Homo sapiens: one gene and its partners. The protein of the gene in region 1 purifies or fractionates together with the protein of each later gene. This does not show direct contact. Each region holds a gene or a part of one and is shown on either strand. Other genes may lie near its edges. The genes, in order: AP3M2, AP3S2 and AP3B2.

What was found.
Region 2: the proteins of AP3M2 (region 1) and AP3S2 purify together in Homo sapiens (affinity purification with mass spectrometry; 2 studies listed by BioGRID and IntAct, with this or other methods). This does not show direct contact.
Region 3: the proteins of AP3M2 (region 1) and AP3B2 fractionate together in Homo sapiens (co-fractionation; one large-scale study listed by BioGRID). This does not show direct contact.

Annotation. Positions count from the first base shown.
Region 1 is NC_000008.11:42,159,468-42,163,121, forward strand, and holds part of AP3M2 (AP-3 complex subunit mu-2), read left to right. Parts: intron 1-2,813; coding exon 2,814-2,951; intron 2,952-3,654. UniProt on the Homo sapiens protein: Part of the AP-3 complex, an adaptor-related complex which is not clathrin-associated. The complex is associated with the Golgi region as well as more peripheral structures.
Region 2 is NC_000015.10:89,838,443-89,842,096, reverse strand, and holds part of AP3S2 (AP-3 complex subunit sigma-2), read left to right. Parts: intron 1-2,752; exon of another isoform or gene 2,753-3,654. UniProt on the Homo sapiens protein: Part of the AP-3 complex, an adaptor-related complex which is not clathrin-associated. The complex is associated with the Golgi region as well as more peripheral structures.
Region 3 is NC_000015.10:82,699,856-82,703,509, forward strand, and holds part of AP3B2 (AP-3 complex subunit beta-2), read right to left. Parts: intron 1-3,654.

The DNA of each region.
Region 1 (3,654 bases):
GAGACTAAAATCTTTTCAAGTATTTATTGACTGTTTTTCCTCTATTGTGAATTACCTTTTCATGTCCTTTGTTCATTTTTTTGTTGTTGAAATGTATTTCTTTTTTCATGTGGATTTAAAATCTCTTTTATGGGAGATCTTTATGTCTTTTGATTACTGCATTACAGATATTTTCTTACAGTCTATCACTTGTGATTTAGCTTTGTTCTGGTGGTGTTTAGCCACATTTTAAATGTTTTGATTTAATCAAATTAATCATTCTTTTCATTAAGGTTTTACATTTTGGGTCTTGTTTAATGCATAAGCAAGCATTTTCATGGAATTTTATAAACTGATTGAAAAATACATTTTAAAAGTATAAATATTGCAAGAATAGCCAGGACAGTTTTGGAAAAGAATTACAAAGGGGTTGTTGGGAGGATTTGCCCTGTCAAATATCACGACACGTTAAGTTTGTATAGTACACAAGACAAATATTCATACAGTAGACATCCTACAAGACCCAAGAGAGTTTTGAAAATAATATTTTTAAAAAGAGGAAAGATAAAATGTGTCCTACCAGATATCAGATATATTACAGGTTTAACATCCCAAATCCAAAATCCAGAATGCTCTACAATCCAAAACTTTTTGGATACTGACATGACACTCAAAGGAAATGCTCATTGGAGGATTTCAGATTTTTGAATTTGGGATGCGCAACTGGTATAATCCAGATATTCCAAAATTTAAAAAAATACAAAATTTGAAACATTTCTGGTCCTGAACATTTCAGGTAAAGATTACTCAATCTGTATGAAGTTTGGGTAGTTTTTAAAATTTGGTATTTGTCTGTAACAGACAGATAGGTCATTGGGATAAAATAGTCCAGAAACAGACCCTTGCTTTTATAGGAATTTGGTGTAGATAGATGTGGTCATTTATCAAATCAGTGGACCAGGGGCTGGTTGTTAACTATATTGTATTAGGGCAGTCAGCTTCAATATGGAAAAAATTAAGTCCCTCCACTTCACACTATACACAAAATAAAGTCTAGCTAGGTTAAGGAGTTAAACACAGACTTTATAATTATTAGACAAAAACAGGAGAATGTCTTTTTGATCTCAGAGAAGGGAAGATCTTTTTTAAAAGTCTAGTTTGTGATTTTATTTTTGGATTTAATTATTTAATCCATTTGAAAATTATCTTGGTGTGCAATAATGTTTATTTCTTCAAGAGTTTTCCTAGCACCATTGTGTAATTTATCCTTTTCCCCTGTTTTAGAATGACATTTCTATCTTGTCCTGTCATTATGGATTCTTGGTCTGTTTTTAGGCTTTCCTGCCTTTTCCCTAGACTGCTTTGATTATTATATCTTGATGATACATTTTAATACATAGTTCCTCTTTTTAAGGAAACAAATTTGGTGGTTTCTTCAATATTCTGAGTTCATTTTAAGCCTTAAAAGCTTTGTTAGTGCCTGAATCATTTACGAATATTATGAAGTGAGTTAAGCCTGTATCTCACTTTAATCTAGAAAAGGGTATCTAAGAACCACTTTTGAAAAGTTGAAATGGGCCTGACATATTGGCTCATGCCTGTATCCAATACTTTAGGAGGCTGAGGCGGGAGGATCACTCATGCACAGGAGTTCGAAATCAGCCTGGGCAACTTGATGAAACCCTGTCTTTACAAAAAATACAAAAATTAGCCAAGCATGGTGGTGCATGCCTGTGGTCCCAGCTACTCTGAAGGCTAAGGTGGGAGGATCACTTGAGCCCAGGAGGTCGAGGCTGCAGTGAGTTATGATTGTGCCTGTGAATAGCCACTGAACTCCAGCATGGGCAACATAGGAAAACCCTATCTCTTAAAAAAATTTTTTAGGTGGGCATGGTGGCTCACATCTGTAATCCCAGCACTTTGGGAGGCCGAGTTGGGTGGATCATTAGGTCAGGAGTTCAAGACCAGCCTGGCCAACATAGTGAAACCCCGTCTCTACTAAAAATACAAAAATTAGCCGGATGTGGTGGCACGCGCCTGTAGTCCCAGCTACTCGGGAGGCTGAGGCAGGAGAATTGTTTGAACCCGGAAGGCAGAGGTTGCAGTAAGCCAAGACTGCACCACTGTACTCCAGCCTGGGCGATAGAGCGAGACTCTATCTAAAAAAAATTTTGTTTAAAGACAGAAAATAAAAGGATCCAGGTAATGGAAGAAGGAAATAGAATTTAAATTAATGTATTTTATTATGTCAGTATAAAACCTTTTAAATTAAAAAAAGTTTATGCCTGTAAAGGAAAAAACAAGTGAAGGAATTGATCTACAATTCTTAAAGACAGGGAGAGATCAACTTTGTGTTCTTTTCCTAAGTTTCAGTGTTGGAACTTGGGAATGAGACAGATCATATTGATATGTACATTTTAGTACCTACCATAAATGTACCTAAGAACCTATCTCAGGCTCAAATACTGTTTTTACCCATGAAATTTTTATATCAATATGTAGATTACGAACTCTACTGAAAGCCAATACATTATTTAAGCTGCATCTGAGATACTAAGTTCAGGTTACTTTCAAAACCAAAATATGATATCTGTTTCTCAGGTAACTTTTTCTTAAACCTTTATTCTGTTTGAAAAGGCAGACCAGATGGCAACAAGGGGTTTTAAAAATAGACTAGGTTACCCCATATAGAAGTTGGGAAAAACCTCATCTTCTGTTTGAAAAATTCTTCAATTGAGTGCATGAATAGTGGGAGCATAGAAACTTCTAGGGAGGTGTTCTGTGGTTTCTAGAGTCAAAATGGTGTTAAAATACAGTAATATTAATTGCCTCAGGAAGCACGAATGTGGGTGACCAGCTTCCCACTGGGCAGCTGTCAGTGGTGCCTTGGCGACGGACTGGGGTGAAATATACCAACAATGAGGCCTATTTTGATGTGATTGAAGAGATTGATGCAATTATTGATAAATCAGGTAGGTGCTTTTAATATGTTCTCAGAAATATGAAAATAGAAAGGGACCTCTTTCATATAATGCTTGTAGTTTCAGAATTAACCCCCATTCAAGGTCATCCACTTCAATTTAGTGCCTACTTTGTGCCAGGCACTGTGCTGGGTACTGGGAATGGACGTTAATATTATGATGCAGACCAGGGTTTATTTCATATGTTTACTTGCTTTATTGGTCTTATCCTCTTGAATAAAAAAGAGAAGTAACAGGCCAGATGTAGTGACTCACGCCTGTAATCCCAGCACTTTGGAAAGCTGAGGCGGGAGGATTGCTTGAGCCCAGGAGTTTAAGACCAGCCTGAGCAACATAGTGAGACCCCATCTCCACAAAAAGTGAAAAAAATTACCTGAGCATAGTTGTGCATGCCTGTATTCCTAACTTTGTGAGGGGCTGAGGTAGGAGGATTGCTTGAGCTTGGGAAGTTGAGGTTGCAGTAAGCCCTGATCATGACACTGCACTCCAGCCTGGGCAACAGCAAGACCCTGTCTCAAAAAAAAAAAAAAAAAAAAAAAAAAAAGTAACAAATTAATTTCTTATTGATTAAATTACCTTCTCGAAAGTATTTGGCTCCCAGTTCTGATGGCAGAACTAAAGTTGTAATCACAAAATTCAGGGAGCTGCCTTTTCTATGTGTTCTGAATTAGGTAAATATGACTAGAAGTCCTGG
Region 2 (3,654 bases), on another chromosome or scaffold:
TTTCCTCAGTTCTGCCAGTATGCAGCTTGTCTTCTCTTCTCGTCTCCCTACCTCTGCTAAAGTTCTTGTATTTCTGCTTTGAGCTCTCATTTCATAGAGACAACTATTTTATCAAGTTTTCTTTTTTTCTTTGTGTAAAATATTTTATTACCATTGTATCTAGTCCATGGAGGCCCTTTTCCAGTCTGTGGTCTTAGTCTGCCATTTGGTTTTCCTATTTCTTTCCTAATTTTTTCTCGTTGTATATTTATATAGATCCTGTTTAGATTTTTTGTATACTTATCTTTAAATAGGCAAGTTTTTCAGGGACCAGCTGTTTTGCAGGATGTTTGTTGGAGGAGCTACCAAAACTCTGTTCTGGGCTAGCTACAGTTGTTCCCTTGATTTAGGGTTCTGGGTGAGTCCGTTTACCCTTAGTCTCTAGCCAGCCAATCGAGATAGGCAAGGCGTCTCTTAGCATCTCCACAATGCAAAGGATGTCTTCTCTACTACCACAGACACCACCTCTGTGAGGCAAATGTAGCTTGCGTGATTTCTCATTTAGCCTCAACTTCAGGTCCAAGGAAGTTCCTGCCTTCCAAAAACAAGGAATTAATTTGGTGCTGGAGTGTGTCCTTTACCCACAGGAAGTACATATTTTTGCAGATCTTTCTGAGATCACCAGCTTCCCTGTCCTCTCCCTGTAGCATCCTTTCTTCTTTTTCTTCTGTGAAGCAAAGGAGTCCCTGCCTGAGCTCCCTGCTTTTGACAGCTTTTTCACCTGTTTGGGGGTTTGGAATTTTGGATATCCTGTAGTTATAACAAAAATGGAGTTTGCATTTTTATTTCTTCTTTTTGCATTTGGAACATATTTTGAACAGCATTTGAAAATGCTGACTTTATGATGCAGTGTTAAATAAGAAGTTTTAACTGACTTTTTCTGTTAACCAGCCACTAGTCTCCACGACATCATGTGTTAGGCCTTTTACTATACCTTCTCCAGAAAGCCCCCACCACCACACTGTTGTCTATCTTCGAAGTCCCTAAAGCCCAAGGAATATGCTACTTAGATATATGGAAAGCCTTTCATTCATTTAGCATGCCTACTCTGAGCGTTGTTCTAGGCCTTGGAGATAAAGCATGGAAGAATTAATACAAGATATTGACACACCAAAGACAAGTCTTAAATGATTTCATGTGGACTAGGGGTCAGGGATGAATAGAGTGGAAGACATAGTTTGGGATTCTGAGGAAGTATGATATAAAGGGTAGAACATGAGCTCCGGAATCAGCACCATTCTGCTGCTAATATACATGACATTGGGATCATTTTATTGCCTTTTCCTCATATATAAAATGTATCAATTTCTTCATATATAAAGTGAAGTCAGGCCAGGCGTGGTGGCTCACGCCTGTAATCTCAGCACTTTGGGAGGCCAAGGCAGGGGGATCATCTGAGGTCAGGAGTTCCAGACCAGCCTGGCCAACATGAGGAAACCCCGACTCTACTAAAAATATAAAAATTAGCTGGGCATGGTGGCGGGTGCCTGTAATCCCAGCTACTCAGGAGGCTGAGTTGGGAGAATCGCTTGAACCCAGGAGGCGGAGGTTGCAGTGAGCCAAGTTCACACCACTGTACTCCAGCCTGGGTGACAGAGTGAGACTCAGCCTCAAATAATAATAGTAATAATAATAATAAAGTGAAGATTATATTACCTACCTTAGATGAATGTTGTAAAATTAAGGTAAGTTACATAAAGTACTTGGTTCATAATAGATACTCAACAAGTACTACTTTCTACCCACACAGGGATTGGCTAAATAAAAGGAATAAATACTGAAAGTGCAGGTATAGAGGACTATTTCTCTCCTTTTTTGTTAAATTGTGGTAAAATATGTAACATATAGTTTCCTGTCTTCACCATTTTTAAGCTTACAGTTCTGTGGCATTAAGTATATCCACATTGTTGTGCAGTCGCCACCACCATCCGTCTCCAGAGCTCTTCATCTTGCAAAACAGCACCTCTGTACACATTAAACAATAGCCACCACTGTCCTCTTCCCCCTGCCTCATGGCAGCCCCCGTTCCAGTTTCTGTCTCTGAATTTGACTACTCTGGGTACCTCACAGGAGTGGAATCACACAGTCCTCATCCTTTTGTGTGTGGGTTGTTTCACTTATAGTATCTTCAAGGTTCATCCGTGTTACATTGTGTCTCAGAATTCCCTTCCCTTTTACAGCATCTCAATTCAGATGAAAAAAAAAAAAAGAATTCTTTTCCTTTTTAAGGCTGAATAATATTCTGTTGTATTTCTATGGCACATTTTGTTGATCCAGTCGTCTGTTCATGGACACTTGGGCTGCTTCCACCTTTTGGCTGTTGTGAATAATACTGCTATGAACATGGGTGTACACATTCTCTTCAAGTCTTTACTTTCAGTTCTTTTGAGTGTATATCCAAAAGTGGAATTGCTGGGCCATATGGTAATTCTGTTTTTAATCTTTTTGAGGAACCACCATACTGTTTTCAGAGGCCTATTTCTTGATGGGGAAGTATAAACAGTGGAATTCCCCCAGGGAATAATTTTAAAACCAGTCTTGTTTAACATTTTGTAAATTATCTAAATATGAGACTTTTACCATTAAATCTTCATTTGCATATAGCTAATGAATAATTCATATTGTATAAAATGTAAGAACACCTCGTGAGAGTGTGTGTGTGCGTGTGTGTAGACAGAACAGTGGTTAATAAAGCTCAATGTGGGCACACACGCAAGGGAATACATTTGATTTATTATACTCTGTCCTCAAGATCAGAAGTTCCCTGCACTTACTGAGGGCAAAATACAGGGAGCCAATGCCAGAGAACTTCAGATGTCAGAAGTGCACAGTGCCCAGATATGCAGACACATCTTTCTTCTTGACTCTGCATTGCTGACAGAGTAAACTGGTGGTTGACTCTAGACTCTGGACCAGTGGTTCTCAGCTGGGGTGAATTTGCCCCCTGGAACACATATGACAATTCTGGAGACATTTTTGATTGTCAAGCTGGAGGAGTAGAGACCAGGGATGCTAGAGAACAGGCCACAGTGACAGGACAGCCCCACAGCAGAGGATTATCTGGTCCCAGATGTCACTAGTACCTAGGCTGAGAAGCCCTGCTCCAGACCCAAATTACCTTCTCAGCCTTGTCTTAGCCTCTCTCCTGCATAAAGAAAGTTGCCATCCCAGCCAGACCCAGGAGCTCCCCATACCTGCCCATACACCAGCTGAATTGCTCCTTCCAACATCTTCTACCTGAAATTCTTTCCCCTACCTCTCTAATGTCAGAGCCCAGCTTCCATCCTCCCACTGTCTCTGTGAAGCTCTCTGATCTCTCTAGCCACTGTACCCTTTCTTCTCTGACTTCCCCAGGACTATCCCAGTCATTTGGCACTTAGTTAACAATAGAAGGTTGTACTTGCTGTCTTCCCAACTTGACCGAAAGCACCTTGAGGGCCATTTGATGTGATTTGGTTTGAAATATGGAGTACCATTCCTTATGAACCACAGTGGGCATCTCTGCTTTGACCCACCCAGGGCTTTCTGTGACAGCTTTCCTACCACAAAGGGGTACAGTAGTTGAGTCACCTCCGTCCCATCACAGCAGTTAGGTACACTGAGATTCAGCTTTGT
Region 3 (3,654 bases), on another chromosome or scaffold:
AGCTGCAGGAATCGCTGCATCAGGTTCTTCTCCAGGAATGGACTGAGCTGGCCAGGGCGCTGGGGCTCCTGTCACAGTCACCAGATGGCCCGCCCCCAAAACTTGGTAACCGGACACTGGCAGGGAGGGATGCTCCGGTTTCCTCTTCACTGCTCAGAGACAAGGCCTCTAGAGGGAAAGAAGGGCAGGGACAGGAGACCAAGCCTACCCCTAGTCTCTGGGCAAGGGACTAGATGGTCAGTGGAGTTGATAGAGAGGTGAGAGATGCCCTCTTCAGCTCCAATCCCACTGCCACAATTAGACTGCAGCCTCCTGAGAAATCTCATATACCCTCTTCTCACTGACCCTAGGCATCTTAATCCTCACCTGCCTTTCCAGAGCCAATACTTGATTTATTCCTTCCCATCAACCTTCTCTTATCTCTACTTCCTCCTAGCACCCTCCCCCGCAACCCCTGTGTCTATCCCTCCAACTGCTCTCACATCCTTGGCCCTCTTGTCCCACTGGTCTCCAATGCCACTGGCCTGCCAGTGGTGGGTGGCTTTTTTTTTTTTTTTTTTCAGATGGAGTTTCACTCTTATTGCCCAGGCTGGAGTGTAATGGCGTGATCTCGGCTCACTGCAACCTCCGTCTCCTGGGTTCAAGCAATTCTCCTGCCTCAGCCTCCCAAGTAGCTGGGATTACAGGCATACACCACCACACCTGGCTAATTTTTGTATTTTTAGTAGAGACGGGGTTTCTCCATGTTGGTCAGGCTGGTCTCAAACTCCCAACCTTAGGTGATATGCCTGCCTCAGCCTCCCAAAGTGCTAGGATTACAGGCGTGAGCCACCGCGCCTGGCCTGGTTGGCTTTCTTCATTGTATTTGAAACCCCTTTGACCCTCAAGTCCCCATTCCCAGCCTTGCCCTTATGGCTTCACCACCTGGTTCCCGAAAAAGGGAAAGTCTTTAGATGAAATCCCCTGCAGCCCCCTGCCCCAGACTCCCATCCATCTGCATTTATTTACTTATTTATTTATTTAGAGATGGAGTCTCACTCCGTTGCCCAGGCTGGAGTGCAGTGGTGCCATCTCGGCTCACTGTAATCTCCACCTCCCGGGTTCATGTGATTCTCCTGCCTCAGCCTCCTGAGTAGCTGGGATTATAGACATGCGTTACCACAACTGGCTAATTTTTGTATTTTTAGTAGAGACGGGGTTTTGACATGTTGGCCAGGTTAGTCTTGAACTCTTGATTTCAAGTGACCTGCCCGCCTCAGCCTCCCAAAGTGCTGGGATTACAGGCATGAGCCACTGTACCCAGTCTCCATCTGCATTTATACTCTCCTCTCCTCCTGCCCTCTTCCCTCTGGGCAGAGTTGGTCCTCCCTGCTCCCAGGCTAGTCCTCCCACCCAGCTCAGTAAGCCTCCCCTCCCATCACTCAGTGTTCTGTACTTCCTTTCTTCCCTTCAGCCTCTCTCCCACCAATCGCTCCTTCCCATCAGCAGTTAAACTTGCTCTAGGCTCTCCCGCCTAATATTAATAATAAACAAAAATATGGAGTCATACATTTTAAGAAACAAAAAAAAAAACCCAAAATAACAAAATAGACAAACTTCCTTGAACTGAGTGAGGTTCTCCTCCAGCAGCTTTCTCTTTTACAGTCAAATTTCTTGAAAGCAAAATTTCCATTCACTGTTTTATCTACTTACCACCTGTGTGCTCCTTTATTCATTTTAATCTGGCTTTAGATGTCGACTTAGAATGTGGGGTTGAAGGGTCATGATCTCTGCAACTTAACATGGTTCAACCAAAAAAAGTATACGAATAGATGGTTAGATAAAGCAAATAAGGTACGATGTCAATGACAGTTGAATCTAGATGGATGATATACATGTGTTCATTGTATTATTCATTTCATTTTTCTGTATGTTTTAAATCATCCACAACAGAATGCTGGGAAAGAAATAATCTAGCTCCTGTTCTCCTTACTTTGCCAGAATTTATCTCCCAGGGCAGGAGGTGGGGAATAGAGTAGAAAGGAATTGAGCTCTTCTTTGTCAACCAATGGTCATGATTTTTTTCCTTGTTTGATTTGACCTTAATGGGCATTGAAACTACTGACCACTCCCTCCTTCTTGAAATTACATTGTTTTCTTTCAGCCTTTAGTTCACCTCTTGGGTACCTTGAAACACTTTCCACTGTTCTCTGGTCACTTCTAATGTTGGTGTCTTCAGGGTTCAGACTTGTGCAGTGTCTGAACTCATTTTATACCTCCTCCCTGAGTTATCTTCACTTCTGTGGCTTTAATTAACATACATATGTTAATAATTCCCTAATCTCTCTCCTGGAACCCAAATCGTAATATCCAGCTACCTAATAGGGTAATATGTCCCTCAGAGTTTACAATCTCAATATGTCCAAAGCTGGGCTCAACATTAATTTTCCACAAATTTGCTTGTAACATCTTTATTTCCAATTACACTGAATAACACCATCATCCATCCAGTTGCAGGAACTAGTAACCTGAGTAACATCCTTGTCAGGCCTCTGAGCCCAAGCTAAACCATCATATCCCCTGTGACCTGCACGTATATATCCAGATGGCCTGAAGTAATTGAAGAATCACAAAAGAAGTGAAAATGGCCTGTTCCTGCCTTAACTGATGACATTACCTTGTGAAATTCCTTCTCCTGGCTCATCCTGGCTCAAAAGCTCCCCCACTGAGCACCTTGTGTCCCCCGCCCCTGCCCACCAAGGAACACCCCCCTTTGACTGTAATTGTCCACTACCTACCCAAATCCTATAAAATGGCCCCACCCCTATCTCCTTTCGTTGACTCTTTTTTCAGACTCAGCCGGCCTGCAACCAGGTGATTAAAAAGCTTTATTGCTCACACAAAGCCTGTTGGGTGGTCTCTTCACATGGACGTGCGTGAAATTTGGTGCCATGACTCGGATCGGGGGACCACCCTTGGAAGATCAATCCCCTGTCCTCCTGCTCTTTGCTTCATGATAAAGATCCACCTAATGACCTCGGGTCCTCAGACCAACCAGCCTGAGGAACATCTCACCAATTTTAAATCAGGTAAGCGGCCTCTTTTTACTCTCTTCTCCAACCTCTCTCACTATCCCTCAACCTCTTTCTCCTTTCAATCTTGGTGCCATCTTTCAATCTCTCCCTTCTCTTAATTTCGGTTCCTTTCCTTTTCTGGTAGAGACAGGAAATGCATTTTATCTGTGAACCCAAAACTCCGGCGCCGATCACGGACTCAGGAAGACAGTCTTCCCTTGGTGTTTAATCACTGCGGGGACGCCTGCTTGATTATTCACCCACGTTTCAGAGTTGTCTGATCACCGCGAGGATGCCTGCCTTGATCTTTCACCCTTAGTGGCAAACACCACTTTTTGGGGGGCAAGTACCCCCCACCCCTTCTCTCCATGTTTCTACCCTCTCTTTTCTCTCCACGTTCCTGGGGGACAAGCACCCCCGACTCCTTCTCTCTGTGTCTCTACCCTCTCTTTTCTCTCCACTTTCCTGGGGGGCAAAGCACCCCCCACCCCTTCTCTCCGTGTCTCTACCCTCTCTTTTCTCTGGGCTTGCCTCCTTCACTGTGGGCAACATTCCACCCTCCATTCCTCCTTCTTCTCTCTTAGCCTGTGTTCTCAAGAAC